Linked DNA regions of Homo sapiens. The protein of the gene in region 1 purifies or fractionates together with the protein of each later gene. This does not show direct contact. Each region holds a gene or a part of one and is shown in the gene's direction. Other genes may lie near its edges.

The links.
Region 2: the proteins of CCBE1 (region 1) and NOTCH2 purify together in Homo sapiens (co-immunoprecipitation; one large-scale study listed by IntAct). This does not show direct contact.

Annotation. Positions count from the first base shown.
Region 1 is NC_000018.10:59,430,324-59,432,969, reverse strand, and holds the end of CCBE1 (collagen and calcium-binding EGF domain-containing protein 1 precursor), read left to right. Parts: 3' UTR 1-2,031; downstream 2,032-2,646. UniProt on the Homo sapiens protein: Required for lymphangioblast budding and angiogenic sprouting from venous endothelium during embryogenesis.
Region 2 is NC_000001.11:119,965,010-119,968,662, reverse strand, and holds part of NOTCH2 (neurogenic locus notch homolog protein 2 isoform 1 preproprotein), read left to right. Parts: intron 1-430; coding exon 431-586; intron 587-1,041; coding exon 1,042-1,230; intron 1,231-2,173; coding exon 2,174-2,287; intron 2,288-3,096; coding exon 3,097-3,210; intron 3,211-3,653. UniProt on the Homo sapiens protein: Functions as a receptor for membrane-bound ligands Jagged-1 (JAG1), Jagged-2 (JAG2) and Delta-1 (DLL1) to regulate cell-fate determination.

The DNA of each region.
Region 1 (2,646 bases):
TGTTTAAAAAAAAACACACAAAACTATGCACAAGCTGTATGAGAGATGGCTAGGTCCATCTATGATTTTTTTTAAAAGAAGAATTTTAATACCTTTTCTTTGACAGTGAACTGTATTTAGAAATATGATCTTTATTGTGAAATGCTCATAAAATGCAACCAAACTGCATGTTTGGCCATAGGCTAGAATAATATATTAAAAGAATTAATGGAAAGTAGTATTGTCTGGGTTTCATGAAACTATTCCAGATAATATTCTCCAGCAAAACTTATGGTAACCTGTATTTTATAATGTCAATCTGCTGGACCAAGTTAATTTAGAAAATAATTTTTAATCCTCAGATTTTCAAAACTTGGACTACTGCAAGACTGATATGTACTTTTTATGCCCAAATCATATTTTTCAAAGATAGGACATCATAAGGCATCATTATTTCTAATGTATCTTTTAACTAGATAGAAAAAGCTTTACTGTCTAAACAGGACTTCTGCTCAAAACCTAATGGGAAAGCTATTTCTGGGGTAAGATTTGTAACAGTGCTTCTAGGTCATTTCATGTTTTATAGGGAAAAAGATCTTTGTACACCTCCTCAACCTGTTAGTAGAAATGTTGACTTCGATTTTTTGCACCCTCTTCACAGGACCTCATAAGTTGCCTCTGTTCTTGGAAAGCAATGGGAATAAAAATATGCTGTTGAAAATAGTGCATGGGGCCAGGCACAGTGGTTATGCCTGTAATCCCAACACTTTGGGAGGCTGAGGCGGGCGCATCATGAGGTCAGGAGATCAAGACCATCCTGACCAACACGTGGTGAAACCCCATCTCTACTAAAATAAATAAAAAAAAAAATTAGCCAGGCGTGGTGGTGCACGCCTGTAGTCTCAGCTACTCGGGAAGCTGAGACACAAGAATTGCTTGAACCCGGGAGGTGGAGGTTGCAGTGAGCCAAGATTGCGCCACTGCACTCCAGCCTGGCTACAGAGTGAGACTCCGTCTCGAAAAAAGAAAATAGTACATGGAGGGCATGCATTTTAGTTTAGGAAACCCCCCTCCCTTCCCAGTTCCAGAGGGAGAAATTATAAGCTATACTGTGCCAAAAGTGAGTGGGGCTGCAGAGAGAATGGTGCCTTTTCTCACCTTCTGAGTTAATGCCCGACATCTGCCATTGGATTCATTGACCAAAGGAAGTCATTTCTACTGTATAAACTCAGGAGTATCATAGCCCAACAAGTAAATAATAAATGTTCATTGGTTTTGGAAGGAAGGAAAGGTGAGTATTACCCCACCAAATACCAGCGAAGAGCACCCTGGCTTTGGCCATCTTTCCAAGGTTCATAATTGCTGTGGGCCTGGTGAGCCCTGTTCCCAGGTATGCAAGGGAGGGCTTCTCCAGGCCAGACATTTCTGTAGGTTTTCAGGTAGCAACTCCCCCATCATATTTTGGGTGTCATTCCCCACTCTCTCTCCCCACTTCTCAGCCTGTGCCCCAGAAACAACCACAGCAGCCTCATTCTGCAGACTTAACATCTGTCAAATAACCTTCCTGAAAAGGAAAGTTATTGGAGGAATCCAGGCCAAACAACAAGTAGAATAGAGCCATCTAAAGTTATTAATAATGAGTTCAGGGAAATAGATGAATTTTTTCCTGGCATAGTCAATATTTATATCTCACAACAAGTCAAAAATAATTTTCCATTTGGAAAACAAAACACACCATGACTGTAATTGTTAAGGCATATAATCATGAACTTCACATGCTCCCTCAACAAACGTTACTGCTCTAGGGAAATCATAGAAAAGGACCCTCTTACTCCCCAGGGGATCAAAGCAAGTCCCCTTAGGAATTTCATGTGTGCCGTGGGTCTGTTTTTATTTCACAGTGACTAGTCATATACTGGAGTAGCTCTGTTGTTCATTATTTGTAACAGGTCCATGTAACAGTCAAGTTAGCATTCAAGCAATTATGGATGTGATACTATGATGTACTTTTGTTATGATTGTATATGCTTAATAACAAAGTTATTTTTCTTACATTGCTCTACTGTGTTTTGTCTTGACACCTGGTTTTGTGAAGCAAGTTATCTTTTTACCCAGTGAACAAGGAGACGGAGAGGTACATTTCTCTTGAGAGCTGGAATCGAGAATCTGGGTCAGCCACCTCCTGAGGTCTGGGTGTGCTCAGAGCATTTGAATCTGAATCAAGGTCTGAAGGCGCAGGTACCACTGCATGTGGGTCTCAGAGATCCAGTTCCCTAGCTGAGATTCCCAGGGTGAGATTTTCAAACCGAGAACCCTCTAGACGCTCATTGGAGCTGCCTTAGGAGCTCACAAACAAGAGGCCTGTGAAGACTGAGTGCTCCCTGCCCCCAGCGCTGCACTCACAGTGACTCCATGTCCAACTAGTTTTCTGTTTGGGATTAGAATTCCATGTAAGATTTCCTCTGGGGGATGCAGTGGCAAACGCCTGTAGTCCCAGACACTGGAGTGAGAGGATCACTTGAGCCCGGGAGTTCAAGGCCAGTCTGGGCAACATAGCAAGACCCCATCCCTTAAAAAAAAAAAAAAGTTTTATTAAATGTGGCACTTTCCCCTAGAAGGGCAGAAACCCCAGGAACCAGTCTGCCTCTTTTTGAATAAAGCAGACTT
Region 2 (3,653 bases), on another chromosome or scaffold:
TGGGGAAGTAGGATTCCGGATAAAATATAGGATGTATGGAATATTTGAGACATACTAAAAATTACTTCTTGTTTATCTAAAATTCAACTGGACATCCTCTATTTTATTTGCTAAATCTGGCACACTATCTGGAAGATAGCTCCACTTTCCTGTCTCCGTCTTCTTATCTTCTGGCCTGTAGATGTCTCTGTCCTGGAGGAGAGGTCTAGCTGAGAGCTCAGGGTCAGAGTCTAGGGTTGCATCTAGGTGCTTTGCTGGTGGCCAAGCATGTCCCCAAGGTAGGGTCAGGCAAAGCAGAAGTTGCGTATAAATCTCCATGTTGGATTCTGAGGAACTGATCATGAGGTTTTCCCTCCTGGGTGAAAGAGAAAGCTCTTCCCCAAGTGAGAGACATTTTCTCTTAGTTGTCCTTTGCCCCACCCTGTGACAGGTCTCCTGTGTCATCTGGATGATGCATGCATCAGCAATCCTTGCCACAAGGGGGCACTGTGTGACACCAACCCCCTAAATGGGCAATATATTTGCACCTGCCCACAAGGCTACAAAGGGGCTGACTGCACAGAAGATGTGGATGAATGTGCCATGGGTGAGTAAGCAGAACTTTTTCTGTTCTGTGAAGTGTCTGTTGAGCTCAGCAAATGTTTAAACTGAAGCACATTTTACTGTAGAAGCAAATTACATACACCCAAACCTCAGATTACTCTTGCTACATGGCCAGTGTTTACAAGTGACCTTTCAGCATAGCCATAACCATATATTCCATTCTGGGGATTAACTGTATGAAACGTATGTACTTGATTCTTAATATAAAGCCCTACCTCAATGACAGTTTGGGCAGAAACTGCAATAGCAGAAATGCATAACAGTTGAGGATACTCCGCTTTTATTTCTTTTTAAATTAAGGAAAAAAAAATAGAAAATTGGGAATGATATTATTGAAGGCCTGGCCCTGATGCTATAACCATCAGATGCTCTTCTATTGTTCACATTTGTGGAAACTCAACTGCTTTGATCCCAGTAATTGGTACTTGTGTCTTTCAGCCAATAGCAATCCTTGTGAGCATGCAGGAAAATGTGTGAACACGGATGGCGCCTTCCACTGTGAGTGTCTGAAGGGTTATGCAGGACCTCGTTGTGAGATGGACATCAATGAGTGCCATTCAGACCCCTGCCAGAATGATGCTACCTGTCTGGATAAGATTGGAGGCTTCACATGTCTGTGCATGCCAGGTAAATGGGCCCATCAGCATGTTGGGTCTAGAGAGGAGGGACTGTTCTGAACTTCTCTTGGTAGAGCATTCAGTATACTATTGCAGTCTGATGAGCTCTGTCAGCATTTGATTTCCTTTGCTGACTGGGGACTAGAGGAAGTCAGGGTTCACAAGCAAACCTTCCTTACTCAAAGAGTAAGGCAGTGCTAGAATTCATCAAGCTATGTAGACCAAATTAAACAAGCCTGTTATATCAAAATCCACATGTAATAGAAAATTTCAAAAATGATTTACTGTAAGAATCCTTTAAATAGCAAGTTTTCCTGATACCTTCATGTAATTACAAATACCATACCATTCCATTTATATAAATAAATTTTATCCACAATTATATAGGAAGTTTCCATTTATCTAAAGTGCAGTACATGTTTAGTTGTATTCTGGAGCTCTTCTGCATAGACCATGTCTTTAATTTTGAGAGGATACAGCCAAATCCAGCTTGAAATGATGGCTAACATTGGCTGCTCTGCCTGATTAAGGCTGCCGGCCACTCCAGCCTTGAAAGGCACTGCTGACCTTGAACTGCACCCTGAAGGCAACAACAGCTCCAGCTCAGCTTGTCTTTAGGAACATAGAGTGGGGACATTTTGGGCCTTCCACAGTCCAGAAAGTATGGATTTATCACAGAAAATGTGGAGCAGTCCTTGTTTATATGCTAGGTCTTGCCAATGTCTTTTAATGTAATCCCTTCCCGCTTTTCACAGTGACATGGGTATTTCACAGTATGCCCTGTCCTGCTTGACACTTGGAGTGACTATTTCTCATCATGGCAGAGTTCCTTTTTTCTCTGCAGAAATGTGTGTACTCGCAAAGGATGTAGTTATCATTGCAAATTTGTGCTTCCTTGTCTGGAATACACCTTTCTCTCTCTTTAAGCCACTTGTGTGGTCTGTTTTGTTTAGGTTTCAAAGGTGTGCATTGTGAATTAGAAATAAATGAATGTCAGAGCAACCCTTGTGTGAACAATGGGCAGTGTGTGGATAAAGTCAATCGTTTCCAGTGCCTGTGTCCTCCTGGTAAGTGCCCACGACCTGGCCCTGTTTTCTCTTAAAGCACAAAGCCAACTGACCACAGGGAAGAGAGCAGGGAGAGAATGTGTGTGGGCTGTGCATGAGGAAATCATTAGAGTAAGTGCTTGGTGATAGGAGTGTGTGTGTACAGAAATAGAGAATTTGTTTTAGCTACTATATCTTACAAGTCCTTTGTGGCCAAAAGTCCAAGTCTATTCTTGAATGGCCCATGACCTCTTCGTCTGTGTATATATTTCAGAATGCTCATACCTCACAGAAGCCTTAGTTGTAGGCTATTCGGGATTTTATTTTTTTCCCATGGGTCATATTCTTGAAGGCCCTCTGTGAGACTGTTATTTTTAGACATTTCACCCATGAGTTCAGAAACAGACAACACATGCCAATTTTTCCAAGATTCTCTGTCTCTCCTTTTTTTTCCTCAAGCTATTTTTGAAGATATGCCAAATTGTCCTCCATAGATTGCATCTTACCCCATTGTATCTTCAGAGAGAAGGTTTCTGTTGCCTCTGAAGCTACAGTTACTTGTTTGAGGTTCCACCTATAAATTTCACTTCCTACATCCTTCATTTAGAAGTGAAGTCTGTCTGTGAAGAAGCAATGGTAGAGACACACCACAAGTGCCTCTGATTCCCTGAGTGTCACCTGGTTATTCCAGTTACCTGTTGGGGAGAATAATAAAGCATAGGCTTATTGACCCATTGGTATAAGCCCTGCTAGTAACCTAACATCATTCTCATGGTAAAGGGAGACACAAGATAATCCTTTGACTCATGTTACCACTGTCCCTTTTTGAGGTTTCACTGGGCCAGTTTGCCAGATTGATATTGATGACTGTTCCAGTACTCCGTGTCTGAATGGGGCAAAGTGTATCGATCACCCGAATGGCTATGAATGCCAGTGTGCCACAGGTAAGATTCTTCTCACTTTTCATCTCCTTGGTAGGTCCATCTGAACAAAATAGGGTGATTGTCCCTGTCCTCTGCTAGCTGCTGTGCCAGGCCAGTCCACTCCCAGAGGCTCCTCTGTGTTTAGGAAGAGCTGTTTCTAACAAATTTTTTGCTGCTCTCTTTTTCTGCAGCACCTGCCTCCTCCACCACAACAGTGGTCTGGCCCAGATATTTCCATTTGGTATCCATGTCTTTCTGGGACAGATTTTGGCAGCAGTAAGTTTCCAGCTGGCTAGATTGACTCATTTAGGAAAGAGAAGAAATCCAGTTGAAAGCTATTTTTCACTGGGGCTTCTCAGCAGGAGGCCTGGCTCTGTGTTTCTTGAAGCAAGTGACTGAAAGAAGGCCCAGAAATTTAAAGGCTGAATGTGTACAAGTGCAGGGGTATTCTGCATAAAAGACAC